3 separate regions of the Homo sapiens genome follow, and all the other regions are linked to region 1. Evidence: fine-mapped expression QTL. A gene starts in region 1. Each other region holds a variant in brackets. All regions are shown on one strand. Distances are from middle to middle.

Region 1 (10,171 bases):
AGTATGAGCGCCCTCTGGTGGCCACCGGAGAGCCGGGTGCCGGGGCTCCTGCACAGGGAAAATCCGCCTTCGCCCAGGCCAGTGCCGCTCATGGCCCCATCTGTGCCCTTTTCCACTCCACTCTGGACAGGTGGCCTGAGGCCTGCCAAGCGCCCAGGGCAGGGTGTGCGAAGGCACCTGGGCATGGGAGTCGGGCAGAGAGCAGAGGGGTAGGAGTGCCTAGGCCGCAGGCCCACCCATCCCCACTTCCGTATGGGGAAACTAAGGCTGGGCAAGGGAAAGTGACTCCTGCCACTTCACGGCAGGCTGGCTGCAGGAATCCTCATCCAGGGCCCAGGGAACGGGAGTGCTCTGTGTCCAGTGCAGCCTGGAGGCAGGCGGGAATGCCACCTCCCCTACCACTCCCACCCCTGAAAGGCAGGAAACGGGGGCTGTGGCCACCAAACTCCAGGAATGAAGGAAGAGGGAGTTCTGCTGGTGGGTCAGGGAAGACTGCAAAGCAGCAGCAGGTACAGGGACAACGAAGGCAGCATGGATGAGGCTGCGTGCGGGCCCTGGGCAAAGGCCCAGGAGTGGGAGCGAACCTGCAGGATCCAGAGAGGGCTAGGCTGCCCATGTGGCTGCAATGGGGCCTGGGAGCTGGCAGGACTCCAGACCAAGCCCAAGGACAGTCACAGCTCATAGCCCATCACTGCCCTCTGCCCTGTGCCTCCAGGGGTCCCTAGCTCAGTCTCCCAGCCTCCAGGCTGCTTCTCTGTGACCCTGCTGGACAGCTCCTCAACTGTCCTGGACACAACCTGACCCCAGCCCCAGCCCCAGCCAAGACTCTGTCAGGCATCTTCAGTCCCACACAGGGCCTGCAACCTTGTAGGTGTGGACAGCGCAGCTGGCCAGAGGGGGCCGACAGCCCTGCCCCCATGTCCTGAGTGCCCCTGAAGGAGGAGCTCCCTCTGCCAGAGCCCAAGCTCAGAACTTGCAGGGAGATGCTTAGGCATAGGATTGAGTGGTGGGGCCCCAAGGCACAGCCACTGAGGTTTGGCCAGCACCCAGGGGTGGGGCACTGTCCCTGTCATGGGGTGCATGGCTGACTCTCCTGGCCCATCACCGGATGCAATTTTCTCTATGCCTTAAAAATGGAAATGCTAAAAGCAGTCAAAGCACAATGTCCAGACAGAGGGCAGCTGTCAGGGAGACTGTGCAAAAGCAACTGACCAGGTCCTCTGAAAAGGGATCCTCCCTCCACCTGCTCGGAACTTCTGCTCTCCTCACCGTCCAGTCGGGCCTGAGCTCCCACCCGGCCCCCTCTGGCCAGCTGCGCTGTCCCCACCTACAAGGTTGCAGGCCCTGTGTGGGGCTGATGACGCCTGACAGCATCTTGGCTGAAAGGCCAGGTGGGAGAAAGAAAGGAGCATTATTCAGTCAGATCAGGGGGGCCCAAGAGCCTCCCTTAACGCCCAGTCTCGACAGCCAGATCCCACGGAGGGCTGGAGGGGCAGCCCCAGCCGCCCACTCCACTGGCCAGCCCCCAACTCAGAGGCAGCTAGCTTTGGTTTGCAAGAGGTCCTTTCTCTGGTCCTGCCATGGACAAGCCGGACTGGGGAGGGTTGTTGAGGTCCTCCTCCTGGAGGGGCATTCTCAAACATTGCTCTCATTGATTTTTCTCTATCTTCTTTTTCTACCTCACTTTTTTTTTTTTTTTTTTTTGCTTTTATTTTTGCTATTTTCTTCATTTTGCTTACCTTGGGTTTGATTTGCTCTTTTTGTTCTGGTTTCCGAGGGTGAAAGTTTAGGTGGTTTTTTTTGGAGAACTTCTTTCTCTTCCAAAAGAAGTTTTAGCTCTTTTTTTTCTAAAAGAAGCATTAGTGCAAAATTTCCCTCCAGGGCCCACTTCAGCTGCATCCTTTGACTTTGATGAATTGTGTTTGCATTTTCATTCAGTTGGAAATATTTTCTGATTTCCTTTTTGGTTTCTCCTTTGACCTATAAGTTGTTTAGAAATATGTTATTACTCAGTTTCTAAATATTTGATGATCTTTTAGATATATTTCTGTTATTGATTTCTAATTTAGCTCCATTGTAGTCCAAGCAAATAATCTGCATGATTTTAATCCGTATAAATTTACTGAGATTTGTTCTATGGCCCAGAATACAGTCTGCCTTGGAGGACATTATTGGTAAATAAAGGTGTGTTCCCCTTCTGTGAGGTGGAGTGTCCTACAAACATCAAGTTGGTCATGTTGACTGGTAATGTGATCCACGTCTTCATCCTTACAGACTTTTTGTCTATTTTTTATCAGTTCTCGAAAGAGGAGTGTTGAAATCTCTGTTATTGTGGATTTTCTTTTTCTCCTTTCAGTTCTATCAGATGTTGTTTGTTTTGCTTTGTGTATTTTGAAGCTTAATTGTTAGGTGCATACATATTTAGAACTGCTGAGTCCTCTTCATGAACTGATCAATTTATCATTTGGTAATGTCCCTCTTTTTAAATTTTTTTTCTTTCTTTCTAGTACAGATAGTGTTTTGCTGTTTTGCCCTGGCTGGTCTCAAACTCCTGGCCTCAAGCAATCCTCCCACCTCAGCCTCCCAAAGTGCTGGGATTGCAGATGAGAGCCACTACACCTGGCCAGTAATGCTCCTCTTTATTTCTGATTATAGTCTTTGCTTTAAACCTACTTTGATATTGACGTAGTCATGTCTGTGTTCTTTTAATTGGTGTTAGCATAGTATATCTCTCTCCATCTTTTTACTTTTATCTTATTTGTGTTTTTACATGTCTGGTGAGTTTCCCACTGACAGCATATACTTGGCTGTTTCTATTTTTATCCAATCTGACAACCTCTGTTTTTAATTGAGATGTTTTTGTTTGTTTTTGAGGCAGAGTCTCACTCACTCTGTCGCTCAGGCTGGAGTGCAGTGGCACCATCTCAGCTTACTGCAACCTCTGCCTCCCAGGTTCAAGCAATTCTCCTGCCTCAGCCTCCCAAGTAGCTGGGATTACAGGCACCCACCGCCATGCCCAGCTAATTTTTGTATTTTTTAGTAGAGAGGGAGTTTCACCATGTTGGCCAGGCTGGTCTGGAACTCCTGACTTCAAGTGATCCACCTTCCTCAGCCTTTCAAAGTGTTGGGATTACAGGTTAGGATTACAGGTGTGAGCCACCGTGCTCAGCCTGATTGAAGTGTTTAGATGACATAGTGTCATTATTGCTGTGGCTGGGTTTAAATATATGTCATCTTGCTATTTGTTTTCTATTTGTCTCATTGTTTTTTCCTTTCTCCTCTTCTGCAGTCTCTGTAACATGTGCTTTTATAAATAAATAATTCTGTATCATCACTTTTGTTGATTTATTAACTACAGTGCTTTGACTTTTGCTTTTTTCTTTGTCTTTTTTTAGTGACACTTTAGCGTCTTAGCATACACCTTTGACTTACTAGTCTACCTCCAAGAAATAGTAGGCCACTTCACATAGAGTAGAATAAATCTACAACAGTGAACTTCCATTGTCCCTCTCCTGGTCTATTTGTATTACTATTTTTTTTTAAATTTATTTGACACAGCGTCTTGCTCTATCACCCAGGCTTCAGTGCAGTAGCGTGATCACAGCTCACTGCAACCTCCACCTCCTGGGTTCAAGTGATTCTCCCACCTCAGCCTCCTGGGTGCAACCTCAGGTGTGCACCACCACACCCAGCTAATTTTTTGGTATTTTTTTTTTTTTAGAGATGAGGTCTCTCTACGTTGCCCAGCCAAGCCTGGTCTTGAACTCCTGGGCTCAAGCGATCCACTCGCCTCAGCCTCCCAAAGTGCTGGGATTACAGGCGTGAGCCGCGGTGCCCAGCCTGCACTACTATTATCATACAATTTACTTCTACATTTGCTATAAATTCCTTAATACATTGTTATTATTTTTGCTTTAGGTAATCAACTATCTTTTAACTTGATTCAAAAATAAGAAAAAAATTACCTTCTATTTCCTATTTCTGGTGTCATTTATTCCTTTGTGTAGATCCGTATTTCTGCCTGAAGAACTTCCTTTAACATAAAGGTCCCCAACCCCTGGGTCACAGACCGGTTAGGAACCACGCCACACAGCAGGAGGCGAGCGCTGGCGGGCGGGCAAGGGAAGTTTCATCCGTATTAATTCATCGTGGTCTGAGGCTGAAGACCGCGACATACTCTGGTTCTGACCTATGCGTTCCTTCCACGCCCCTTATCCCACCAGAGTGTGAGCTCCATGGGGTGGGAATATTCTGGAACGTCTGCTGGTTTTATTCTTTGCCTTCTCCCCAACTAGGACCTGGCACAGGAGGGTGCGCATTACCTCTCGGCAAACAGAACAACTAACTGGCCTAGTTTGCTGGGGACCGAAGGATTTCCTGGAACCGGAGCCCGCTTGCCCAGCAGGCATGGTGTATTCTGTACCTCAGGCCCGCAAAAATGTTTTAAAGAAAAAAATGAGCTTTAGGGTAGAAGAAAAGGTTTTATTTTTCTTTCTCACATTGGAAAAAATGAAAACTTTCGGACCCATGAAATTTTATTACATTTTGCCAAAAACAGAACCAATAACATAAGTATTCAAAGTTATGTAAAGATAATTATTTAATATGAACATTATGATGGTGAGAGGGACCACGGAGCAAGGGGCTGCCTTGCAGGCCTGCCTTCCAGCTTTGCTACAGGGACCAGAAGCGGGAGCTGAGCGCAGGGGAGGCAGGCGGAGGCCATGGGCAGCGAGGCGGGTGCGCCAAAGGGCGCCAGTTCCGGAGCTGCTGGGCCTGGGCTGCAGGAGGGCGGAGCTGGGGCCGCAAGGCTGGTGCCGGCCGACAAACGACGCGGCGCGGGCGAGTGGGCGGAGGCGGCTGCGGGGAAGGCTGGGCTGCCGCGGGACGCGGTGAAGATAGCCTGCGGAGTGTCCGGGCTGAACACGTGAGTCTGAGGGTCGCCAGGGAATCACTGCGTGGCTGCCTCTGTGTCGGAGATCCAGATGCCTGGACTGGCCTCGGGGTCCCAGCGCTTGCCCGGCGAGCCGGCGGTCCGGGGACGGGTCCGGGCCGAGGCCTGCGGTGAACTCGGCTCGGCGGGTGCCCAGGAGGCGGGTCCGGGGCGGGGCCTGCGGTGAACTCGGCTCGGCGGGTGCCCAGGAGGCGGGTCCGGGGCGGGGCCTGCGGTGAACTCGGCTCGGCGGGTGCCCAGGAGGCGGGTCCGGGGCGGGGCCTGCGGTGAACTCGGCTCGGCGGGTGCCCAGGAGGCGGGGCAGGGGCGGGGCCTGCAGTGAGCGCGGCTTGGTGAGTAGCCCAGGAGGCGGGTCCGGGGCGGGGCCTGCGGTGAGCTCGGCTCGGGGGGTTGCTCAGGAGGTGGGGCCGGGGCAGGCCTGGGGCGGGGCCTGCGGTGAGCTCGCGCTGGGCGGGCTGTTCCGGGGGCGGGACTGGGCTGGGCCTGCGGTGAGCATCAGGCGATGCGGCACGGGTGCTGCGGGACACACAGACACGCCTACGATTAGACTCAGGCAGGCACCTACCGGCGAGCGGCCGCGGGTGACTCCCAGGCGCGGCGGTACCTCACGGTGGTGAAGGTCACAGGTGAGGTCACCCTGATAGTCCCGCTCGCGCCGAGAGCCCTCCCCTCGACCTGGGACCGCAGTGTTTGGGGCGGGGCTCTCCGTGAGGGGGTTGGGAAGCTCGAAGCCGCAGGCCTGACTCTGGCCTTTGGCATCCTGGGGTTGGCCTGGGCAAATGTGTCGTGAGAGACGGATTTGTTGTTCTCGGGAAGGCGTAAGTTTAATTTAGTCCTCCAGGACGGAGACCGAGGGCCGAGTATCCCGGCAGGGGTAGGAGAGCCGTAATCCAACCCCCACCTCCCCACTGTAAACCTCTTTCCAGAGAGGGCATTCCCGTTCCAAACACCAGACCCAGCCGGGGAAATGCTTCTTCTTGTCTGGCCCAAGTGCCCTCCTGGGAGGGGCTCAAAATGCATTCCCCCCAAGCTGGGCACAGCTCATCCCTGCTGGGGAGCTTCTGCAGTGGCCGAGGACTCAGACAACCCTAACCAGGGCTCTGGAGGTCTTCTGGAAGAAGGAACCCCAAGTAGGGACACCCCAGGAGCAGAGAGGAGGGGAACAGCGAGAAGAGACCCAGCTTTTGGGCCCAGTCCTGCCATGGCCAGCCATCCGGCCCCCAGGGCCCTGCTTGGGATGGGGCTGCAGACCACCTCCCATGGGACCTCTGCACCAACCATCCCCTGGGTAAAATCCTTGTTTAGGCCTGGTATTTAAGGCCCCTCTGCCCATCCCTACTCCTTCTCTAGCACTGCCCCTCATCCTCCCCCCATCTCTCCTCCATCCAGCGCTACAGGCTGTTTTGAGCTTTTGCAGGTGCTGGTCTCTGATTGAAATGTCCTGATCTCTTCTCCCTTCTTGTCCCATCCCAAGTGTCTCCTCCTCCAGGAAACCTTCCCTGACACCCACTGAGTTAGGTGGCCCCTCTGCCCACCATCATCCCTGCCCAGGCCCCCATGGGTCCTTCAGGCCCAGTACTGACCACCTGTCTTTGCCACCTGCTGTGCAGGGTTGCAGCACTCCCAGTAGACCAGGAGCTCCGGGAGGCAGGGCCGGCCCCACGTCCTCTGCGCACCACCCTGAGTTGGATCCTCTGTGCGCCACCCCTGAGTTGGATCCAGGGCTAGCTGCTGTTGACCTCCCCACTCCCACGCTGCCCTCCTGCCTGCAGCCATGACGCCCCTGCTCACCCTGATCCTGGTGGTCCTCATGGGCTTACCTCTGGGTAAGATGGACAAAGGACAGAGGGATGGGCAGACCCACTTTGAGGGCAGATGGGCTGACAGTAGGGAAGGAGGCTAGAATTCCCAGCGACAACCCCTCCTTCTAGCCCCCTGCCCCGGGGAAGGTGACGGGCTGGGGGCCTGATGGGCTGGAGGAGGGGCCTCTCATGTTCTGTGACCCCCGTTCCCTTCCCGCCCATCTGCCAACCCCAGCCCAGGCCTTGGACTGCCACGTGTGTGCCTACAACGGAGACAACTGCTTCAACCCCATGCGCTGCCCGGCTATGGTTGCCTACTGCATGACCACGCGCACCTGTGAGTCTGGGGGCCCTGCGTGGCCCTGCCTGGGGAGCACGAAGGGGAGGTTCTGCCCTGCCCCTGAGCATGCGGGGGTCCTGAGGAAGGAGGCTCTCCTGTTCCCGGATCCTGTCTGGGAGCTCCAGGCTGAGGGGCCCTGCCCTGATGGCTGTGGATGCTGGGGTGGGGCCAGCTGGGTCTCCTGCCCCTCTTAGCGGAGCTGGCTCACCGCCCCGCCCCTCTGCAGACTACACCCCCACCAGGATGAAGGTCAGTAAGTCCTGCGTGCCCCGCTGCTTCGAGACTGTGTATGATGGCTACTCCAAGCACGCGTCCACCACCTCCTGCTGCCAGTACGACCTCTGCAACGGCACCGGCCTTGCCACCCCGGCCACCCTGGCCCTGGCCCCCATCCTCCTGGCCACCCTCTGGGGTCTCCTCTAAAGCCCCCGAGGCAGACCCACTCAAGAACAAAGCTCTCGAGACACACTGCTACACCCTCGCACCCAGCTCACCCTGCCTCACCCTCCACACTCCCTGCGACCTCCTCAGCCATGCCCAGGGTCAGGACTGTGGGCAAGAAGACACCCGACCTCCCCCAACCACCACACGACCTCACTTCGAGGCCTTGACCTTTCGATGCTGTGTGGGATCCCAAAAGTGTCCGGCTTTGATGGGCTGATCAGCCCCTCGCCTGTCCAGGGCTATTTATGGGGAGGGGCCCAGTCAGGCAGGGAGCACTGAGCAGATGGGAGCTGTGGCCAAGCCCACCTTCTGGGAAGCCCTAGGAGAGGCCCCTGCCTCAGTCTGCCCCTGGTGTGCTGGGGCAGGGGGAAGACAAGGAATGCCCGCAGGTGGGGTGGTGGGGAGACTCTTAGGAGGAAAGGCTCCTCCAGGCCTAGTCACGCTTCCTACTGAGGCCAGGAGCTGCCAGGACCGGTACGGGATCAGGGCTGTGGGAGGAGGGCCTTTGGCACCGGCCCCTGTGCTAGGAAGTCTGCCAGGCCCGAGTTGGAGCCACCCCCTGCAGGGGAGGGGGCGGCTCTGCCTCAGCAGGCCCCAGGGCCCCCGAAGTCACAGAAGCTTTTTCGGGTCCAGCAAGGGGTGTGTGTCCTCTCAGTCAAACCCCTTGACGTTTCCCACCCCCTCACGGGGAGGGCACCAGGCCTGAAGCTGGCAGGAGCTAGGGCCATGCTATATTTGGTGGGTCCTGGACGCTGACCCGGCCAGCGCTATTCTGGGCAGGGAGGGAAAGGGGCAGAGCAGGTGGTCCCCCGAGTCCTGGTCCCCAACCACAGCAGGACCCAGCCGAGCAAGGCAAAAGACGCAGGACTGGGGGATGCGCGCACAGGCTGGGGGTTGGGAGCAGCCTGGGGCCGGCGCGGGCCTGGGCGTGGGAAGGCGGAGCATGCCACCCTCTCGTGGCCGTGCGGGGGCGGGAGTGGGGAGGGTGGGGTGGGGAGGGCGGAGACCCAGCCCCTCCCCCGCAGCGGGATGCGCACAGTGAGTGGGTCCCTCCATCACCTTCCACCTGGGGATGCACCCACTGGGAGGGCAGGGTGGAAGCCCCAGCTGGGTGTGTGGACTCCCAGGGACCCCACCCCAGGCCTGGGAAGCAGGGGTCAGCCCAACACGCACCAATCCATCCCCGATGCAGGTAGCCCAGGGAGCACCTGCCCCTGCTGTGAATGGGGCATTCGGGGGCGTGAGACCTTTTGGTGCCAGCGGTCACGCTGCACCTGAGGCCCCCACCTGACCAGTGCTCCCAGCTCTGGTGTCCTGAGAAACCCTTCAAGCCATCCCGCATGGGCAGGATGGTGACATATCCATGTGGTAGGATTGTCCCGGCCCCAAAGTATGGCCCTGGTCAGGGGAGCCCCTGCTGGAAATTGCATCTCCAGAGCTTTGATGCAGGACCCCTGGGGGATCAGGGAATGAGGGTCTCCACCCCAGGGGTCTCCTTGCAGTGAGTCTATATGCAGGCCTGCGTTCTGCTCCTGGGGCTGGTTCTGAGTGCCCAGCTTCAGTCTCCTGAGAACATGAGGATGGGAGGGGGCAGAGTCTTGCTGAGGGCACACCCAGTTCCCGCTGGAGGAGGACAGTGCCAGTCTTCTGCAAAGGGACCTTGGGTGGGAACGGGCCCGGAGCGGGAGGAACGTGACTCCCCAGAGGGAAGATGGGCATCATACTGGGCCCAGAGCTGGGAAGGAGTTGCTGCCAGCACAGGGTGGGCCTGGACTCCCCTCGCCCCTACCCCCAGTGGTTGTGGCTGTAGCCCTAAGCCTGGAGAGCAGGACCGGCCCGGGGTGTCTGGGAGGCTGCCAGGTGCCTCCCAGAGCTCCCAAGGGCCCCCACCTGCAAGTGCCAGCCTCAGGGCAGTGCCCAAATGAGGCCCTCTCAGCTGCAGCCAGCGATGCCTTGGGATGCTTACCGGGAGGGAGGCGGCTTTGGGCTCCTAAGTCCTTGGGAGAGGCTGGGAGCAGTCACTGCGCGGCTTGCGCAAGCCCATTGTCGGGTTGGGTGGCTTCCTCAGCCAGGGCTGGGAGGGACTCCAGGATCAGGTCCTCCCTGTCTCGAGTCTCAGTGGGGTGATGGGGAGGAGACCTGGCCACCCATGGCTCAGGGGCAGCTGAGAACAAGGACCTGCTGGAGCTGGAAGTGCTGTGGTGTTGAGGGGTGGGGTGGGCAGCTTCTCACACCTGCCTCCTGCCTCCTTCTGTCCACCTTTCCACCACCCTGACCTGTCCCAGCCCCACACATGGTTCTGCCTGGCTGGCCTGCCCTTGGCACCTGGCGTAGAGCACACAGAAGGCACTCAGCTAATGCTGGGCAGGCCCACTCATGGGGAGTGCGTGGCTGTGCAGCACCAGGGAACCGGCACAGCAGCGCCGGCAGAAATCACAGCAGTAAACTTGTCCGGGTTGTATGCATCAAGGTGGCGATGGACGTGGGTCCCCCCACTGCACTGTGGCCCTGAGCACTGTATAGCAGCCCGGCAATGGGAGCCATTATCTTGCCCCTTTGACAGAGGAGGACACAGAGGCACAGGGAGGTGAAGTAGCTGCCCCACACTAGTGCCTCCTCGCTCACTCACCA
Region 2 (10,171 bases), 750 kb before region 1:
TATGTCGCCTGCCACCGAGCCGGGCCCACCTCCCCACCAAGGAAGGTATGCTGGGAGCAGGGGCGCTGGGCACTGGGGCTGGGCCTGCCTGATGGGATATGCTGGCGTGTTAGGAGCCATGGGCACCTTCCCTGCCTCATGCTGGTAGAGGCCCTGGCTGGGAGGGCACTGCCTGGCAGACGGTGGTGGTGGGCTGGCAGATAGAGGATAGGGCCCGGATGCTGCGCCCTGCAGTCTGGCTGTGGGATGTGCTGCTGGGCAGGTGCTGTGGCCTCTTCTGTGTGTCCCTTGGTATGGACCCAGCTGTGTCCCTCCTGAGGGAGGAGAGGGCGGCGGCTGCTGAGCCCTTAAGCAGGGGTGAAGCCCTCGCTTGTGCTGCGCTGGGCACCCCCAGGCCTCTGCCTCCTCCAGGGCCCTTCTGTGCTCAGCTGGCTGGGGCTGCAGGTCTACCTGCCCTGCCCTTTCTGAGTGTCACATGGTACTGTGTGAGTTTTTTGAGTGGCCTGAAAGAATTGGTCTGGTCTCCTGCTGTACCACTCTAAGTGTGCCCAGTCACGCCTGGAGAGAACTGGTCTGAGCCCCTGAGAGCCCCTGTGGTGGCCTGGGAAGGCCCCGGCCTGCAGATTGTGGGGCGTAGCCCCTTTGAGGTTGACCCCCACTGCGGTGATGTTTGCCAGGACACACTGGGGGAGCGGCCTCCAGGCGGGCACGTGGTTGGGGGTATGTGGTGAGGGTCTAGAGCCCTTGGGTGTGGCACCCCCCAGACACCGTGGGGGTCAGTGTGGAGCCACGTTCGTCTGTGTGCACCTGGTCCTGTGCGACTCTGGGGCTCTGCTGGGCGCGTTAGGGCAGTGACTTCCCGAGCTCGTGTCTGTGACATCTGGAGAAGGTGGGGCGTTGGGGATTGAGCAGGCTTGGACCTGGGCACTCCGACTGGGAACCGGTGCTCAGAAATCTAGCCAAGGCTGGGCGCGGTTGCTCATGGCTGTAATCCCAGCTCTTTGGGAGGCCAAGGTGGGAAGATCACTTGAGGCCAGGAGTTCAAGACCAGCCTGGGCAACATGGCAAAACCCCATCTTTACCAAAAATACAAAAATTAGCTGGGCATGGTGGCACATGCCTGTAATCCCAGCTACTCGGGAGGCTGAGGGAGGAGAATTGCTTGAGCCTGGGAGGTTGCAGTGAGCCGAGATCGTTCCATTGCATTCCAGTCTGGGCGACAGAACGAGACTCTGTCTCAAAAAAAAAAGAAACCCAGCCAAGCGTACCGTCATCTAGGGAGGCTTCAGACGGCTCTGGAAGGAGCTGGGCCTGGGCAGACCCAAGAGCCGTGTGGGGGCTGCCGCGGGAGGGCAGGGCGTTGGGTCCCAGGTGGAGGGCTGAATGGGGCGATGCAGCCGGGTGTTGCAGCACAGTGGGGTGGGAGGAAGTGGGGCTGGGGGCGCTGGTCGGCTGTACCCCGTTAGCCGACACCTGCTGCACGCCAGGACATGTGGATTTCATCCTGGTGACAGGGAGCAAGCAGAGACCCATGCGGTCCCTGGTGGCCACAGTGAGGTGGCCGGATGGTGGTTAGGTCGTGGGCTTATCTGGGAGTGGATGGTAGGGGTGGCTTGGACAGTTGGCGGTATCCCCTGGTCACTTGGGGAGGAGGGGTTGGGGAGGTGTCCAGCTCTGGGAGGCCAGCAGGGTCTGCTGAGCCCTAGGAGGCCAAGGCTTGCAGATGGCGTGGTGGTTGGGGTGAGAGGCTCCCCACTGGGTGCAGGTTCAGCCCTGCTCACCTGGCCTGCTCCCTCTTCAGGCCTCTAGTAGAGTGGGGCATAGGCAGGGGATGGGGGAGGTTGCTTCCTGCTGGTGGGGCCTTGCTCGGCGCCCCCCGGACTCCTGCCAGGAAGAGTGGGTTTGGGAGGCCACCAGCTTCACCGGCTGACCATTTCGGAGTGCACAGCTGAGGGGCTGCTGCGGTCCTGCCTCACTAGAGGGAAGGGCGTAATTGATCTCGTCGTTTTTTTTTTTTTTTTTAATGTTTTTAGAAACAGGGCCCTGCTTCCCTCCCAGGCCAGAGTACAGTGGTGCAGTCACAGCTCATTGCAGCCTCAACCTCCTGGGCTCAAGTGACCCTGCTGAATAGCTGGGACTACAGGTGCATGTCACTGTGCCTGGCTAATTTTTAATTTTTTTGTAGGGACAGGGTCTTGCTTTGTTGCCTAGGCTGGTCTTGAACTTCTGGGCTCAAGTGATCCTCCTGCCTTAGTCTCTTAAAGTGCTGGGATTACAGGTGTGAGCCACTGTGCCCAGCCAAACTCATAGTTAAAGACCAACGTGAGGCTGGGCGTGGTGGCTCATGCCTGTAATCCCAGCACACTGGGAGGCCGAGGCGGGTGGATCACCTGAGGTCAGGAGTTCAAGACCAGCCTTGGCAACATGGCAAAACCCCGTCTCTACTAAAAATACAAAAATTAGCTGGGTGTGGTGGCGAGCGTCTGTAATCCCATCTACTCGGGAGGCTGAGGCAGGAGAATCACTTGAACCCAGGAGGCAGAGGTTAGATCGTGCCATTGTACTCCAGCCTGGGCGACAGAGTGACATTTTGTCTCAAAAAAAAAAAAAAAAAAAGACCAGCGTGGCGGCTGCATGGAGTGAGAGGAGAGGGTCCTGTCTGAGGAAGGGGTGGGGAAGGCGTCCCACTCACTTGCCCACCACTGGCCCAACTGGCAAGCGTGGTTGAGTCACTGTGCCTGGCAGCCTGCCGGCTCCTGGGGATACTGCAGTGAAGGTGAAGAGATGATGAGGCTGGAGCCGCCTTCCAGTGGTGGAGACAGGCAGCCACTGGAGTGCTTGTACATCAGCCAGGAAGGTGCTCCTGGGTGGAAAATGCCTTCTGAGGAACAGGCAGGGGGAGAGCACAGGGCCAGCTGCAGAGAGGTGGTTGGCGAGTGGGAGGGCTTCTCTGAGGAGGTGACCTGAGCAGAGAGGAGCGAATAGGGCTCAGCTCTGAGGCCGAGGTGGAGGTGGGAACGAGCTTACTGTGTTCTGGAGCACAAGGAGGCTGTGGGGCCAGTTCACCATCTGGGAGTGTGGCTTGGAGGGGATGCAGCCAACGGGGCAGAGGGACCAGGTCCTGGGAAAGGGTCTTGTAGGCCACAGGAGGGAACGGGGGGTTGGTTCTGGTTACGTTGGGAAGCCAGGGAGGGACAGGGGAGGACCCTGGGAGGGGCGTGTCCAGGGCCCCGGGGTGTCTGGCAGGCCCGAGTGGGCAGAGTCGGGAGGACCTGTGCGTGAGGCCACTGACGCCAGGCCAAGGAGCGGAGTCCGCAGGCTCTCAAGCAGGCAGGGAGCCCGTGGAGATGTGCGCGGAGGTGAGAGGCCGAGCCTGCGTCCTGGCCTGGTCACTCAGGCGGCTGACCCCAGAGACAGCCACCGTGAGACTCCAAGCTGGCCGCAGGGGAGGTGGGCGTGGCCAGGGCGTCTGCTGAGGAGATGGGAGGCTGGGGCCCAGGAAGCTGTTGAGTGGCTCCCCCAGGTGCCCTCCTGCAAGGCCCACCGTCTCCATGCCTGCCTGCCTGCCTAGGAACTGAGGCCTGCCTGTCCTCTGCCTTGGCCAGTGGGCTTCTGGGCAGGGCCCAGCTTTGTTTCGTTGAACGCTGCAGTGCTCTGGTGAGCCAGTGAGCCCTTCCCAGGCCCTCCTTCAGCCCTCCCGGGTGGCCAAGGCCTCCATCGGCTGGGGTGTTCGTTCCTGGATGCTGGGGTCGTGTGGGCTGTGGATGGGGCAGCCAGGTGGGACTGCTCCTTCATTTGGCTGTT[G/T]GGAGTTTTCTTTCCCCATTTTCTGCCCAGCAAAAGCTTAGTTCCAGCTCCACCTCTCCTCTTCAAGGAGACGGCAGTGTCCCAGTGTCCAGCTGGGGACGACTGCCCTGTGGACTTATGCACCAGGGACAGGGGCTTCTGAAAGCTGCCAGGCAGCCCTGCTGCCGCCTCCCTCCCCCGCCGCACTTCAGCCTTGCCGTGCGGCCCAGTGGCCAGCAGAGGGCATGCTTGCCCCTCCTATCGCCTCCGTCCACCCTTTTTTGGTAATCGCGTAATTTCCTTTTTATGTGAAAGAAAGCAGATACCAAGTAATTTGCAGCAATAACCTGCTAATGCTGGGCCAGTATCGAAACTCCCCTGTTCATTTCAAGTGGCAGATAAAACGCTAATACATAATTATCCTTGCAAATTGGATTATTTTAAATAACCAAAAGGCTACGGCCAGGAGAAAGCGATCCCATCTCCCCTGAGTTACTATTGCAGCGTAATTGCCGCGTTCAATCAATTTCCCTGGCATTAGAAATTCCGTCACAATCAACATTAAGCTTTATTCATTGTGATGGCTAAGAGCCGGGCCATTTCTCCTCTTTTTCTTAACTGGCAAAATTAATCAGGGAAAAGATTTTAAACATTTACCCGTGCGAAAGAGGTCAGCCCTGCCACTATATTGCTCAGCAGATAAGGGGGCTAATAAAAAGAAAATTGAATTACTAATGATCACCAAGAACAGAGTATATAAAACCTGGCCATCGCCAGTTCAGGAAAAGGGAGAATCAATTTTCTTGGGACAAGGTGCGTTCATTTTTTATTTTGGCGCATATTATCAGCAATTTAATTTGAGAGGCATAAACAGGAGGAAACAGTTAGGGAATAATGAGCCTGGAGGTGTAAAGTGCCACAGGATATATGCTGTACACAATTTATTTGGCACAACAGATAATCGCTTTAATTGAATTCAAAAGTGCATTGTTCAGCAGCACTGTGGCCGCTCACGCCTGGGGACTGAGACTGTTTGGAAGGTTTCAGCCTGACTCTTCGGTGCCTCTCCTCCCCTCCCTGCCTCTCCCGGCCCTCCGAAGTCCTCTGGGCCTGGAGTCAGACCTCGGCTGGGGGCGGGGCAGGGGATTCCTGGGGGTCTCTTCCTCTGCTGTCAGTGTGCCCCTTGCCTTCCGTTTCTTCCTTCCCTTTTCTCCTGGGGATGGGTCTGTTGGCAGCTGGGGGATGAGGATGTGAGACACTGGCCGGGTGCCGAGGCTCATGCCTGGAATCCCAACACTTTGGGAGGCTGAGGCGGGTGATTACTTGAACCCAGGAGGTCAAGACCAGCCTGGGCAACGTGGCAAAACCCCATCTCTACAAAAAATGCGAGAATTAGCCGGGCATGGTGGCACACGCCTGTAGTCCCAGCTACTCGGGAGGCTGGGGTGAGAGGATTGCTTAGGTCTGGGAGGTTGAGGCTCTAGTGAGCCATGATCGCACCACTGCACTGCAACCTGGGTGACAGAATGAGACCCTGTCTCAAAAAAAAAAAAAAAAAAAAAGGAGATAGAAGACAGCCCCAGAAGGGTGGCCTGGGCGAGTAATGTTTGCTGGAGGCTGCAGTAGAGACCTGCCTGGGTTGATCTGTCTCTGGTGGACCGATGCTAGAGGGGGCATTTGGGCAGAAGAGAAGAAAACCTTTTTGGAGTCTGAAAAATGGTGTCCTGTTTGCCACTCACATAACTGTGGCAATCAGTGTTCTCGAGTACAGTGTTTACAGTACACACGGCTGAGCACTGTGGCCAGGCTCTCACTGTGGTGCGGGGGAAGTGGGGCCAGCTTCGTGGTACATCCTCCTGGGGCCCGTCGCTGTGCTCGGCCACCCTGAGATGACAGGCATGACTCCCTAAGCCTGGCCGGCCTGTGCAGAGGGATGCTGTCCAGGCTGTACACTCCAGGCCAGGCCAGGAGTGAGGGCCAGCTCTCCCACCCACCACCCTGTGCCCAGGCTGGGGAGCTTCTTGGTGGCGGGAGGTGATGGGATTCCTACCAGCCACATGGAAACGTCTGCTATTTTACGCCAGGGAAAAGTCATGGTAGGTGGGTAGGCAGTGGTGTCGTCATCTGCTGGAGTGGGAGGGCCCTCTCTGCTTCACCCACCCAGGATGGTGGATGCATGCCGGTGGCCTGCCCCCTTCCCCCGTGGCCTGGAATAAGCCCAGGGCCCTGCCTGGGAAGCAGCCGCCTTCCCAGACTTGTCGCCAGTGTGCTGGTGGAGGGTGCGGGCCTGGCAGGTCCTGGGCACACCTGTGGTGGACAGAAAGGGCCTGGCTTGCGTGGTGGTCTCGTGTGGACAACCAGGCTGGGTCGAGGCCTGCCGGCTGCCCAGGCTTTGACAGGAGCCAGGCCGGGCATCTGCCTCTGGCCCAGAGCTTGCTGTACACACGGAGGGCGATTCCTACCCGTCCCTCAGTCTGCCGTGCCCGCCCCTGGGTGTGGAGGAACTGCTGTCAGCATTTGCAGATGAGAAGTGGAGTCTCCACTCACCCCAGCTCACTGGCAGAAAGGGCAGGCGTGGGTCTTGGACCCACCTCTGGCTGGTGTCACTAGGTGCCAGGGCTGTCCTGCCTGGGTGACTCTTTTGGGGCCTGGATGCCCATTCCCCGAGTCCGAGTTTCTCTGAGGAAGTGCTTAGGGAGAGCCTGTGTGAGCTGTTGGCCCTCAGCCCCTCCCTGCCACCAGGTGGTCGTGGCTTCCCCCAGCCCCAGAGCAGGACCCAGGTGGGACCTGAGAGGCTGGGGTCCCTCAGGCACACGGCGCTCTCTGGATACTGGGTCTCACCCTCTAGCCCTGGTGAAGCCAAAGGCAGCCTCCCCAGAGCCCTGGCCGCCCGCCCAGTCCTGTGTGGGGTCTCCCCCCGACTGTGGTGCGACATTTCCTGGAACGCTGCCTCCTGACTTCTCGGTCTCAGAAGGGCCTGCCTTGACGGCTGTTCATGTGACCTCTCTGAGTCCTCAGAGGTCCCTGGGGCCCTCCTGTGTCCTTGGGTCCTCCCTGTGCACACGATCCTTTCTGTGTTGCCTCCCGGTGCCTTGGAGAGGGGGTGGTTTGCCACGCAGCCCTGGCATCAGAGGCCTGGGTGGATTCTGCACCCAGCCCGTGCTGTGGCTTTGCACTGTTTGGCCACAGATGCTTATGGGGGTGTCACTGAGCAGGCACCAGCTTGGGAGTGTGATGGCCCCCTACCCCTCTGTCCCTCTGTCCCCAGCGGCTTCTCCCGGTGACCAGCGCAGCCTGTGGATTCCAGTGCATGGGAAAAACCCAACCGCTTTCTCTCGACTGGCCCTGCCCCACCTCGAAGGCCCGGCTTGCTCCAACCAGGCCCAACCTCTGGCCAGGCCCGTCCCCCACCCTTAGGTGTGCACAGTTTGCTCCCCTCATTCGGGAGTCTGTGAGGTGGGCCGTGGTCCATTCTGCCAGGCCAGCTCCTCTAAGATCGCGTGCCAGCCACCCCGCCACCATGGGCATTCCTTCCTCCTGCCTCATGTTTTGTATTGCAGGAATTGCCGGCTTATTGTCCGTCCTGCCTGTTAAGAAGGTGCTGTGGGGAGCACCCTGGCCGCCCTGCGTGCACGTGAGCCTCAGGCTGCGGCAGCTCCTGGTGAGGGTGAGGCGCCCCCCCTCCCAGAGGACTGGACCTGGGCAGAAGGGAGGGCCTCGCTCCCTCAGGAGGCCCCATGGGCAGGCCATGGGCGGGAAGGTGGGGCAGTCACCATGCTTAGCGGGCAACCGAGGGGTGAGGGCCTGGCAGAGGGCTGCCCACCAGGAGGAAAAGCCACACAGGGCTCCCTGCCCTGACGCTGTCCTGCCCCTTTGAGATGTGCAGGCCGGTGGAGGTCGGCAGCAGCACTCAGAGGCTCAGTGAGCAAGTGGGCAGAGTGCCACCAGCCTCGATCCCCGGCCTCCAGCAGAGGGGCTGGTTTCTGTGCCATCCTCGCCGTAACCTCCTGTGCCAGGCTGCTGGGAGGCCTTTCTGAGCCTGGCGATCTCCCCGGGAGGCTGGCCGTGGATGGAATGTGAGGCATGGGTGGAGCCCTGACCTGCTGCACAGAGCCTGAGGATGGAAGCTTGACCGTGGAGGGTGTCTGTCGCTGCCTGGCCGAGGCGTGGCCGCTGGCCCCACAGCGCCTCGGCAGTGCCGCCTGGCTTCTGTTGTGAGTTGGCTGGGTCTGGGTCCCAGCCTTGTGGGGAGCTGGAGCGCTGTGGTCAGAAACAATATGGCTCCCCTGCCCTGCGCAGAGATGAGTGGCGGCCCCCGAGGAGGCAGGAGCACGCAGGGCCCGAGGTGCACCGCAGGGTGGTTGCCAGGGTGGGCTTGCTGTGTCTTGGCAGTGGGGGAGGGTGCCAGGGCCAGAGGGGCCGGAGACTCTCCCCTGGCCCCAGCGAGAGTGAGGAGCAGGCACCCTGTCCCATGCTGCTAGGTACTGGGGAGCAGCCCCATGTCCGGTGCTGGAGGCCTGGACCTTTGCCGGATGCAGGAGGCAGGGTTATGAGCCCCCAGGCGTGGTGTGGGCGTGGCCTGGCGGGAGACTTTGGCCCTGTCTGCCCGTTCTCCTTGCTGGTGCTCGGTGCCCTATCTGTGAATGGGGTCAGGAATGTTTGCTGTGGGGCTGAGCGGTGCCTTTGGGTGCTTTGGCCCGGTGTGATGTTCCTGCTGGGCTGTGCTGCTGGCCAGCATTGCCCACCTGGGAGGCTCTGCCTGGTGCCTCTGGGGTATGTGATCCACCATTGCTTGCTGTGTGCAGCTGGGCTGTTCAATTTTACTGCGGTGAACCCCGTGAAAGGGCATGAGAGCAGTTAGATCTGGAGTCCTGCTTTCATAAGGGAAAAAGAAAATGCTGAATTAGGCTTCAGGAAAGGCAGCCACAGCGATCTTTGAATCTTGCATAAATTATCAGGCATGCCGGCGGCCTCCAGTTTTGCGTGGGTTGTGGCTGTGCTAATTAATTACTTCACAGAACTGGCGTGGGATCGCGTGTGTGCCGTGGTGGTGCTGCACTGTGCTGTGGGTGCCAAGCTGAAGACCTGGGCTGCGCAGGCAGGGTGGCGTTCTCAGGAGAGCCAGAACTCATACCACCGTAGGACCCTGGGTCCCCACACTGGGGACAGCTTGGGCTGCTCCTTTTGTTGAATGGATTGAGGTAGTCCTCTTGTCCCTCTCTTCCCAGCCCAGGGCTGGCACATCCCCCCAGTCACGTGTCTTGGCAGACTTTGAATCAAGTGCAGGACACCTGTCCGAGAGCCTGGGTAGGTCCCTCACCCTGGTGGCCTCTCTCAGGAGTCCACCAGGCAGTGGGTGTTGGGGTGCAGGACACAGGCTCTGTCACCACCTGCTAACCCCCACCAGGCAGCCAGGGGCACGTTGCCAAGTGCTCGGGTGGCGGGTGGGCACGGCACAGGGCCGTCCCGATGGCCACCCCTGCTGGCCTGGTCCTCCTCCCACTCTGCCCGCCTGTCCTCTTCCTGTGCCGGCCTCTCAGGGGTCTATCTTCAGGCATGGCCAGCAGGGCTTGTGCTGCTTGCCTCCTGCTTGCCTCCTGGCGGTGTCTTTTCACCAGCTCTCGGTTCTCCCACCAAAGTAATGGGGGCATGGCTCTGCCAGCCTCAGCTGGCCTCCTGTTGAGGGACTGGGGAGTGGGTGTGGCTCTGGGCACTGAGGCGGCTTTCCAGCTGGGGACGAATGTGGCCTGCACCTTCTGGGATTTGGCCCCTTCTCTGCATGGGGTCAGGATGTTGCTGGGCCCCTGTTTAGTCCCCTGCTGGGGCTGTAGCCTTCTGTGCCCCATCTGCTGCCCGTAAGTGGCCCCTGCCAGCCTCCTCTGTCTCTCCACCTTGACCCTTGCCTGAGGGCCCCTGCTGTGGTCCCACAGGTGGGTCGTGGCAAAGCTGGGTGTGGTCAGAGTCCATGTGGACTTGGGCATCGTCTGGGAACCCCGTGATCCCCACTGGTTGTTTCCCCCTGCACCAAGTCCAATCGCGTGCTGGGCGGGGTCCTGATGGGAAGGAAGTCCTGGTTCCCTGAGGGGTCTCCTGCTCGGCACCAGCAGCAGGACTGGGAGAGGAAGCAGCCCCAGGCCAGTGTCTCCTGCCCGCAGGCACCTGGTCTTCCTGCCACTCATTCTCCAGAACTGGCCCTGCCCTTGCTCACTGGGCATCCGCTGAGCTCTGGGGCTATGTTGGGACTGTGACTGGTGGGCCAGCCTGGCGAGGCCCTGATGTCATGGGTGTGACTCTTGGTGGGAGGTGCTGGGCTCTTGCCTGATGGCAGACAGAGAATGTCCAGCCAGGGTCTCTCCAGGGTTCTCCCACTGGACCCCCACTGAAGTCA
Region 3 (10,171 bases), 250 kb before region 1:
TTCATGACAGAGAACACGGCCAGAGTTCAGTCCTCAGTTCCCCCTTATCTGGGTCTCTGTGATAGCAGTCGGCATTTTCCACCGGGTGGGGGTTTCTGAAAGACTTGAGAATGTATGTTATGCTTTAGTTTCTATAGGGAAGCAAACCACCTGTGGCTGTGGCCTGCTTGGGAGACCCGTGCTCCCGTCGCCTTCCTGGCAGGCTGCTCACTTACCTTTCAAGGCTGGCAAGGTGACTGGAATTTCCCTTGAAGGGATTCAAGAGTGTTCCTTGATTTCCAAGCTTGGGAGAGCCTGGCAGGCACCTAGGAGGGGTCCCTGCTCCATCTCACTATGTTGCCCATGTGGGTCTTGAACTCCTGGGCTCCAGCCGTCCTCCTGCCTCAGCCTTCTGAGTAGTGGGGACTACAGCTGTGGGCCACTGTGTAACCGCCCAGTGGGTTCGCCTCATTGTATTCACTCCTTTCCAGGTTTGTATTTATGGTATGAATTTTAATTTCACCACAAAAACTTAAATCTCCCACAAGACAGAACTTTTTTTTTTTTTTTGAGACGGAGTCTTGCTCTGTCGCCCAGGCTGGAATGCAATGGCGTGAGAGGCCTTCTGGGTTCAAGTGATTCTCCCATCTCAGCCTCCCTAGTAGCTGGGATTACAGGCATGTGCCACCACACCTTGCTAATTTTTTTTGTATTTTTAGTAGAGATGGAGTTTCACCATGTTGGTCAGGCTGGTCTTGAACTCCTGACCTCAGGTGATCCGCCCCCCTCGGCCTCCCAAAGTGCTGGGATTACAGACGTAAGCCACCGCGCCGGCCACTATTTTATCTTTTTTAATAGAATTGATGTTCATTTAGACTCACCACATTTCTACGAATCTGTGCTTCATCACTTGAGGTATCTCTGATTCTGAATGGGACCATTTTCCTTCTGGCTAAAGATCACTGTTTTTTTTTCTGAGATGTAGTCTCGCTCTGTTGCCCAGGCTGGCGTGCAGTGGCGAGATCTTGGCTCGCTGCAACCTCCGCCTCCTGGGTTCAAGTGGTTCTCCTGCTTCAGCCTCCCAAGTAGCTGGGATCACAGGTGCGTGCCACCACACCCGGCTAATTTTTGTATTTTTGGTAAAGATGGGGTTTCACCATGTTGGCCAGGCTGGTCTTCAACTCCTGACCTTAAGTGATTCACCCACCTCAGCCTCCCAAAGTGCTGGGATTACAGGCACAAGCCACTGTGCCCGGCCTAAAGATCACTTTTTTTTTTTTTTTTTGAGATGGAGTTTTGCTCTTGTTGCCCAGGCTGGAGCGCAATGGCACAATCTCAGCTCACCACAACCTCTGCCTCCTGGGTTCAAGCGATTCTCCTGCCTCAGCGTCCTGAGTAGCTGGGGCTACCCGCATGCGCCACCACGCCCGGCTAATTTTTTTGTATTTTTAGTAGAGACAGGTTTCTCCATGTTGGTCAGGCTGGTCTGGAACTCCTGGACTCAAGCGATCCTTCTGCCTAGGCCTCCCAAAGTGCTGGGATTACAGGTGAGAGCCACCATGCACCATGTCCAGCCTAAAGATCACTTTTCTTTTCTTTTTCTTTTTTTTGTTTGAGACAGAGTCTGTCTCTGTCGCCAGGCTGGAGTGCAGTGGCATGATCTTGGCTCACTGCAACTTCTGCCTCCGGGTTCAAGCAATTCCCTACCTCAGCCTCCCGAGTAGCCGGGATTACAGGTGCCCACCACCACACTCAGCTAATTTTAGTAGAGACGGGGTTTCACCGTCTTGGCAAGGCTGGTCTTGAACTCCTGACCTTGTGATCCACCCGCCTTGGCCTCCCAAAGTGCTGGAATTACAGGCATGAGCCACCGTGCCCGAAAAGACTTTTTAAAAGACCTTCTTGGCCGGTGCTGTGGCTCACACCTGTAGTCCCAGCATTCCTTGATCAAGGGAGTTCAAGACCAGCTGGGGCAACAGGGAGAAACCCCGCCTCTATGAAAATACAAAAATTAGCTGGGCATGGTGGTGCACACCTGTCATCCTAGCTACTTCGGGGACAGAGGTGGGAGGATCGCTTGAGCCTGGGTCAAGGCTACAATAAGCTGTGTTCCCGCCACTGCACTCCAAAGTGAGATCCTGTCTAAAATAAATAAATAAATAAATAAATTAAAAAAAGATTTTCTTTTAGTGCAAGTATATTGGGGACAACCTTTCTGTCTGACAGTCTTTCTTCCATTGCCTGTGGAACTCAGGGCTGTCATCTCTCCTGGCTTCCACAGTTGTCCTTCTCACTACCGACCCCTGGTGGCTGATCTTTTTCTCTGGCTGTTGACAGGACTTTTTTCTTTGGTCTTCTGCATTTTCACGGGTGCATGTGGGGCTATTTATTTGTTGATGCTGCCTGGAATTTTCTGGGCTGCTTGATCTGTGGCTGGACGCACTTTATCAGTTCTGGAAATGTCTCAGCTATTAGGTCTTCAATATTGCTTCTGCGCTATTCGCTCAGCTATTTGGGGAACTGTCTCCGTGTATCTGCTATCTTTGTATATTTCTTAATTTTTCTACTATTGAGTATGGATCAGGCACTGAGGGGAAGTCCGTCAGAAGGATTTTCCACAGATCCCTCTCCTCCCCAGGTGGGAAGGCAGATCCCAAGCTTTCCTCCATGGAGGAGGCTGGTTCTCCCAAAGGCATCTGGGTGCTTTCTGGAGAGGGAATGGTGGCTGTGTGTTTTTAAATTGCGGACCAGGCCGGGTGCAGAGGCCCACGCTTACAATTCCAGCATTTTGGGAGGCTGAGGCAAGGGGATCACTTGAGCCCAAGAGTTCAAGATCAGCCTGGGCAACATAGTGAGATCCCATCTCTATAAATTTTTTTTTTTTAAATAGCTGGGGGTAGTGGCAGGTGCCTGTGGTCCCAGCTACTTGGAAGATGAGGCAGGAGGATCGCTTGAGCCTGGAAGGACTGCAGACTCGGCGCGGCCTGTTCTTTTCTGCTTGTCTCCTGATTGTCTCTGTGTCCCCACTGGCTTCAAGGTTCCCTGAAGGGGGCGGTCCTGGGGTGGGACCAAGGGGGTCGGGTGGGGCTTCCTGTGCCAGACACCCTCCTCTTTCACCCACAGGGCAGAAGTTCAGCTACACTAGCAAGGGCTGTGGCCCTCCCTGTGTGTCCAGATTATGAACCTCACCCATCCTGTGGTCCCTGGAGGGTCTTACCCCATAGAAACTGAGAATGGACTGATTGATTGAAGACTGAGAAGCTGGACATGACCTGCTGTGAAAAGAGCCTCTGTAACAAGGGCGTCAAGGGGGCAGAGGCTGTGGATGGGGGAGGTGGCACAGGGTCCTGCCTGGGCCTTACCTCCTGAGGTCCCCACAGGGGCTGAGTGGTGGGGGGCGGGTGAGGGGCAGTGCCAGGACTTGCTGCCCATCCTCCGGAGGCTCATCCGTGGGCAGATGCTGGGAAGTGGGGGCTGGATGGGGCTGCAGAGAGGAGGGCGCCCAGTTCCAGGCCAGTGTGGAGACTGGGAAATCCCTGGTGGGAGGCTCAGGTTCAGAGCCCTGAGATGAGCCTCCCTTCCTCTCCCTCCCCTCCCCTGCAGGTTGAGGTTGGGAGGGAGGTTGAGGCTGCAATGTGCTGTGATTGTACCACTGCACTCTAGCCTGGGTGACAGAGGGAGACCCTATCTCAAAAAACATAACAGGCCAGGTGTGGTGGCTCATGCCTGTAATCCCAGCACTTTGGGAAGCTGAGGCAGGCAAATCACTTGAAGTCAGGAGTTTGAGACCAGCCTAACATGGTGAAACCCCATCTCTACTAAAAATAAAAAAATTAGCCGGGCATGGTGGCGGGCGCCTGTAATCCCAGCTACTCGGGAGAATCGCTGGAACCCGGGAGGCGGAGGTTGCAGTGAGCCGAGATCGCGCCACTGCACTCCAGACTGGGCGACAGAGCAAGACTCCGTCTCAAAAACAAAATAAAACACAAAATAACCGCCCTGCCCATAAACTGGGGACCATGTACATAGAGGGTGTAAAATCAGTCGAGTGGGACACAATCAATACTCTTTCAAATAAAGTAGAAGATATCAGAGTTGATCACAGGAAGTGAGGATAACTTGCTGTGTGAAAGCCGTGCTTTCATTATCCATAGATACACAGAGTGCACACCTCTTGGGGATGCTCGTGCTCTGACTGGCATGTAACATGCACTGCTTATAGATGTCAGATTAAAACATATATTTTAAGATTCAAAAATACAAGTCAGTATCCCTAGCAATATTCTAACTTCTCCATTGCTTGGTGTTATGATGTCTGGCTCAGCCATCATCAGGCCCTGGGACCTGAGCAGTGTGGCCGCAGGGCCAGCAGAGTGACCCGTGGACCATGGGCCCCCCTGGCGCTGCCCCTTCAGGTCTGGCCTGTGCTCTGGTGTGCTGCCAGGCGGGGTGGTCAGGCCTCTTGGGTCCAAGCCTTGCCCACAGCTGCCCCGAGTCACTGGGGGGGTCTTCTGGGCCTGACGCCTCCAGCTCCGCCCTTGTCCTCCCTGCTCTCAGGAGCCACCCCCACCTCACCTGGCCCATCCTCTCAGATGCCATGGACTCTCCAAGCAGAGACCCCTGAGGGCACAGAGTGGATTCTGCTTTTCGGAAGGGACCACCCACCGGAGAGGCGACCCATCCTTATGCAGGTCTGCTGCCTTTATCTGTCTTCATCAAGGGCTCTGTCCCCACAGCCCAGGCAGCCCTCTCTTCCTTCTGCCCAGCACCTGGTTGGGGAGGGGGGGTGGAGTCTGCAGTCAGTCACCCCTGGCCCATTTCCTGTGTCTTCTGATTCTCCGTGAAGAACAAATTCGGGTGTGGGTGTGATGGGGGTGGGCAGGGGGGAGGGACAGGGGTGGTTCCGGTTGTGGCCAGGACAGAGTTCTGGACCCCTCCTCCCCTGCCCCAAGGGAGCCCCCATGTCGTCCCACCCCGTTACAGGGGCCTCTGCTCCCTGCACAGAAAACAAGGGGTGCCTGGCTTGGGGTCTCAGTGTCAGAGCTTGTTGCCCTGCTGGCCCCTCCCAGGCTCTGTCTGCACGGGGGCCTGCCAGTGGTGGGCTCAGCCAGAGACCCTCATCCTGAGCGGGAAGGGCCTGGTCCTGGGTGTGACCTGAGGTCTCACGGCTGCTTTTCTCTCCTGCTTCAGACACCAACACTGTGATGTACCAGGAA[A/G]CTGAAACTGAAACTCAAGGCCCTAGTCCAGGACCCTCCTCTCTATTGAGTCAGAACTTCTCCTAAGGCGTCCTCCCACCCCAGGGGACAACCTCTCCCTCCTCTCCTCACCGCAGCCCCTCCTCTCTTCACCGCAGCCCCTCCTCTCCTCACCGCAGCCCCTCCTCCCTCCGGATCTGTTCTGCTCACACCCTGAGCTCTGGGAGGCCCCAGGCAGAGAAGGGGTGGGGTGAGAGGGGTCTTGCTCAAGGTCATGTCTGCCTTCCAGAGCAGCCAGGTCAGGAAGGAAGGGTTTCTACCCCTCAATTCCCATTCTGTGAGATGATGGGATGAGGCCATCAGCTGTGTGCACTTTACACAAACAATCCGGGTTCCTCATCACAAACCAGAAGTGGGGCAGAGGTTCCCAGGCTCGGGGGTGCAAGGCCTCCCCTAGCTCTTCCCAGGCTCAGAGCCTCTGTGCCACACGTGCCCTCAATGCACCCATACCCAAGACCATGAAGGTCACTAGCCCCATGCTGCTGCTGGCTGAGGGTGGGGGATGGGAAGGAGGCCTGAAGGTGGGAGTAAGACCCTCTTGATGCTGGGGGCTCCAGATGCCAGCAGGACCCTGCCCACAATTCTGAGTAGCCAAGGGCACCTGAGCCTACCTGTGTGCTGCCCAGGCCTGCTGCCGGTGCTGGTGAGAGGGACTGGAACCCACCCTTCAGCCTGCGACCCTGACCTGCACCCTCCCCGCCCCATCCCAGGCCAGGGCCTTGAGTGCTTCCAGTGCTACGGTGTCCTGGACCCCAGCCTGTGTCACCCCGTCTCCTATCCCATGCAGGCTCAAAGCTGCCCCTCCTCTGTGGTCACTGGCACTATCGATGGTGAGTCCTGGGTGGGACCCAGCGTCTGTAGGCAGGTGAGGGGTGGGCAGGGCACTCTCTGGCAGCATCCCAGGGGCTCTGCCTTGAGCCCCCTGGCCTGGTGGAAGCTTAGATCTGGGGACAGAGCTCAGGGACCTCCATCTAATGGACTGCAGACTTGGTGTGGGGCCTGGGGCCGCCGCCCGTTCTCTTCTGCTCGCCTCCGCGTCCCCACTGGCTTCAAGGTTCCCTGAAGGGGGCGGTCCTGGGGCGGGTCCGAGGGGGTCGGGTGGGGCCTCCTGTGCCAGACACCCTCCTCTCTTGCCCACAGGGCAGAAGCTCAGCTACACTAGCAAGGGCTGTGGCCCCACTCTGTGCCCAGATTATGAACCTCACCCATCCTGTGGTCCCTGGAGGGTCTTACCCCACAGAAATTGAGGATAGACTGATTGACTCGAAGATTGAGAAGCTGGACATGACCTGCTGTGAAAATAGCCTCCGTAACAAGGCGGCCACAGTGCGGCGTGGCCTCTGGTGCCAGGCTGTCAGGGAGCTCCTGCTCAGCCTGAGCCCCTTCCTCTGGGCTCTGCTGTGAGCCCAGCCCGCCCTGGCACTGCCCCTGGTGGGTAAACAGGAGCTCAGGGTGGTTGCCCAGTGCAGCCCTCAGCTCCTGCCCCGATGCCCCCGCCTGGCCGCCCAGCAGCCCAGAGACCCCCTCACCCAGCATCCTAGCTGCCTGCTGGCTCAGATAGTAAATGCAGGTGTTCGCCCAAGGACTTTGTTCCCTTATTAACCCCTGGGGTCTGGCCTGCGGCCTTCAAGGTGTCCCAGCAAATTCCCCAGGGTGGGGCTCAGAGACTGGAGGGCCTTCCCCCAGGCAGCCCGGCCCTGCACTCATTTCCAGCCAGGATCGGGCTCAGCCCCAGCCCCGAGGTCCAGAAGCAGCCTGGAGGGTCTCGCACTCAGGGCTGGGGACCCCCAGGAAGACTTGCTGGGGGCTGACGGAGGGGTGGAGGCACCGTGGGCCCAGGCCTGCTGTGGCTGCCGGGTTTCCACGACTGTGGACAGCGTGTGAAATGGTCCCGGGCCCACAGGCTGGCGACTCCTGCAAGGCACCGCAGAGGGCGGGGGTGTCAAGGGGGCAGAGGCTGTGGATGGGGGAGGCAGCGCAGCGTCCTGCCTGGGCCTCACTGCAGGAAGTCCCCACAGGGGTTGAGCGGTGGGGGGTGGGTGAGGGGCAGCGCCGGGACGGGCCGCCCATCCTCCAGAGGCTCATCCGCGGGCAGATGCTGGGAAGCGGGGAAGCGGGGAAGTGGGGCTGGATGGGCTGCGGAGAGGAGGGGGCCCAGTTCCGGGCCGGTGTGGAGACTGGGAAATCCCAGGTCCTAGCGGGGTGCGGTGGGCCCTGGGCGGGAGGCTCAGGTCCAGAGCCCCGAAACGAAACGAGGCTCTCTTCCTCTCCCTCCCCCAGGCTTCAGGAAATTGAAACTCAGGCGCTGGGCTCCTCCCCTCTCTGCTCCAGGCCCAGGACACAACCCGGGCTCCCTCCCGCTGCTCCTGGAAACCACCTGTCCTTGGGGGGCCTCCAGCCTCCCGAGGGCGGGGCAGCAGGAACCCGGCGGGACTACCCTACCCACCACCAGCAGGAGGTCAGGGCTGCCTCTGACCTCAGCCCTAAACCCAGAGCAGAGGGAGAGCTGGGCCCCGAGTCCCAGATCCTAGGAGGACAAGCGGCTTCCACTCTGAGCCTGTCTCCCCTGGGGAAACGAGGGGATGACTGCGCCCCCGTCTCAGTGTGGTTGTGAGGCTCAGTAACCAGTCAGCTCACCTGGGAAGTGGAGGAGATGCCAGAGATGGAAGCGCAAGTTAGCTTTAGCAGAAACAAAGCATTTGTTAGAAATTCCATCATCGCCCAGCGCCCACCACGCTTCTGTTTCCCTGCAGTCAGATCCAGGTTCCCGGCCATGGCTTTTGGGTGCAGCTTCCTCTCACCAGCTCCACTATGATCAACTGTCTGTCCCTCCAGCAAAGCCACCTGCGATTCCGAGTGAACAATGCAGTGAACGCACTGCACACCGGGGCCCGAACACCGGGATCTCTGTCCTCCTGGCTACAGTGCCCAGGCTCCTGGACCATCTGGTTTCCACCCTCTGTTCTCTGCTTGCATTTCTCAATGCTAGAGCGACCCACTCAGCGAATCCAAACTCCCGACGGAATCTCAAGCTCAGTCTCTGCAGGCTGCTCTGATGGGCTCCGGGTCCTTGCACAGGGATAGCTGATCCACCGATCAGGCCCCTCCTCCCGCTGACCTCTTCCAGGCCCTCTCGCTCGGTTACAATGGGCCCCTCATGGGTGGCAGTAATGATTCATGTGTTTCAGACAGGAATCACTAGCTCAGGGACCCAGGAGGAGGACACAGGTCTTTGACCTGCCTTGACCTCAGGGACCTGGGAGGACCCGGCTATTCACATCAGCTGCCAGGGGTGGGAATCTCGGGCCTCCACGTTGACCACCGGCCCCTCCTGCTGGACGGTGCCCCTGGGATCCTGACACACACACACCACAGTTTCTGGCCAGCCGGGAAAATTCAGGGTCGGGCCCTAAGTGGCTGAGACCCTGGCCGGCTCCCTCCCACTGTCCCGGAGAAATGAACAAACACACCTCCACTGGGTGTCTGTTCTTGTTTTCTCTCTCCAGCCCAAAGAGCCCTCTGGGCAGCGCACAGCACCCAACTGCAGACACGGCGGCCTGGGCCGGCTTCCTCTGTCAGGAGGCTGCCACCTGTTTGCCAGGGGGAAGCGGGCAGCACTGCAGTCCAGGCACGGATGGGTCAGGGCTGCTGCCCAGAGCTTCTGCGTGGGAGCCCCCTGCCCCTCCCACAGGCCACTCACTACACTCCGGCCCGTCTGTCCTGCCCCAGCCCAGCTTTTGTACCCTCTGCACCAGCGGGTCCAGACAGACACCCTCCATTCCCAAGTCCTACGGCCCTGGGTGCTGCCCCAGCCTGAGCGTGCTCCTTCTTGCACCCGCTTTCTTTCCTCCATGCCCCCCAACACCTCCTTCCGCTGTGGGAGGAGGAACTCACTTGACCTGCTGAACCTGGGGCAGAAGAAAGGGCAGAGCACTGGGGAGGGGCTCCCTCTGAGGTCAGGCAAGCAGCTGGCTGTGGCTCAGGGGACGACTCCTCCTCCCCCACCACCCCCCTGGGCCATACCACAGAAGACCCCAGGACCCTCCAAACCTGGGGTGCTCTGCCTCTCCCCGCAAGGGGCAGCCACACTCAGAGCAGGAAGCTGGGGGACATCTGTATTTATTTGAGGCACCAAAGCAGCAGGAGGGCTCCAATGTGGGGGTGGGCTGGGGCAGGACTGGCTGGATTTGGGGCAGGGCCTAGACCCGGAAGTGGCAGAAACCCCAACCCCCAAAGGCTGCCCTTGAAGTGCATGCAGCTGTGCCAGGGCAGGGGGCTACAGGGACTGAGGCTCTCCAGGCTGCTGGCACACCTCCCTCCCCAAACATGGCCCCCAGAAGCCGCCACGTGCTCTCACGTGCACTGCACACCCACGTACACAGCCAGGCACACATCCCTACTGACACGGTCTCCCTGGGGACCCTGTCAGCATGTCCATGGGACTTGGTCCTGATGTTGGACCGTAAGACTCCAGGGAACCCTCGTCCCTTCCGCGGTCCCCCAAGGAAGGTCACATCATCCACCCCAGAAGTGAGGGCAGCTGGCCCCACTTGGGGCAGAGGCAGGGGCTGGGGCAGGTGGAGGTGCAGGGGGTGGGCCTGACCTGGGACCAAGGGCACAGATCAGGCACGTGAGGAGTCAGGGGCTCCCATACACTGTGGGATCCAGAAAGGGCTGGGCTTTCCTTCCTGAGCTGGGGGATCGGGGGACAGGGTCTGGGCGGTCAGGGGCCAAACCGCAGCAGGGCCGGCAGCAGGCTCAGCAGCAGCCCGGCACCCAGCAGGGTGACGCTTGCCCGCAGCCCGCCATCGGCCGCACTGAAATTGCACAGAAAGCTCTGGCAGCAGCTGATGCCCATGGAAGCCACACCAACATTGACGCCTTCTGGGATGGGGCAGGCCGGGGAACAGGTCTTGCTCAGGCTGTGGCCAAATGTC

The links.
Region 2: its variant is fine-mapped to the expression of LYNX1 in liver (GTEx, PIP 0.99).
Region 3: its variant is fine-mapped to the expression of LYNX1 in whole blood (TOPMed, PIP 0.92).

The regions. Positions count from the first base shown.
Region 1 is chr8:142,772,515-142,782,685 of GRCh38, reverse strand. It overlaps LYNX1 (Ly6/neurotoxin 1), which reads left to right and starts at 5,484. Exons shown (of 4, transcript NM_177477.4): 1 at 5,484-5,580; 2 at 6,565-6,780; 3 at 6,992-7,093; 4 at 7,323-10,171. The coding sequence starts at 6,729. The coding sequence ends at 7,519. It overlaps LYNX1-SLURP2 (LYNX1-SLURP2 readthrough), which reads left to right and starts at 4,814. Exons shown (of 5, transcript NM_023946.5): 1 at 4,814-4,927; 2 at 6,565-6,780; 3 at 6,992-7,093. The coding sequence starts at 6,729. RefSeq lists a silencer at 1-36.
Region 2 is chr8:143,526,131-143,536,301 of GRCh38, reverse strand. It overlaps ZC3H3 (zinc finger CCCH-type containing 3), which reads left to right. Exons shown (of 12, transcript NM_015117.3): 3 at 1-45. Among named protein-coding and RNA genes, the nearest start is that of ZC3H3, 10 kb to the left of the region's middle. The variant G/T (reference allele first, on the strand shown) is at 3,805.
Region 3 is chr8:143,021,576-143,031,746 of GRCh38, reverse strand. LY6E (lymphocyte antigen 6 family member E) reads right to left here. Exons shown (of 4, transcript NM_002346.3): 4 at 9,338-10,171. The coding sequence ends at 9,958. It overlaps LOC124902034 (a long non-coding RNA gene), which reads right to left and starts at 1,014. Exons shown (of 2, transcript XR_007061135.1): 1 at 861-1,014; 2 at 1-103. RefSeq lists enhancers at 4,667-5,429, 6,192-6,955, 6,956-7,717, 7,718-8,481. The variant A/G (reference allele first, on the strand shown) is at 5,196.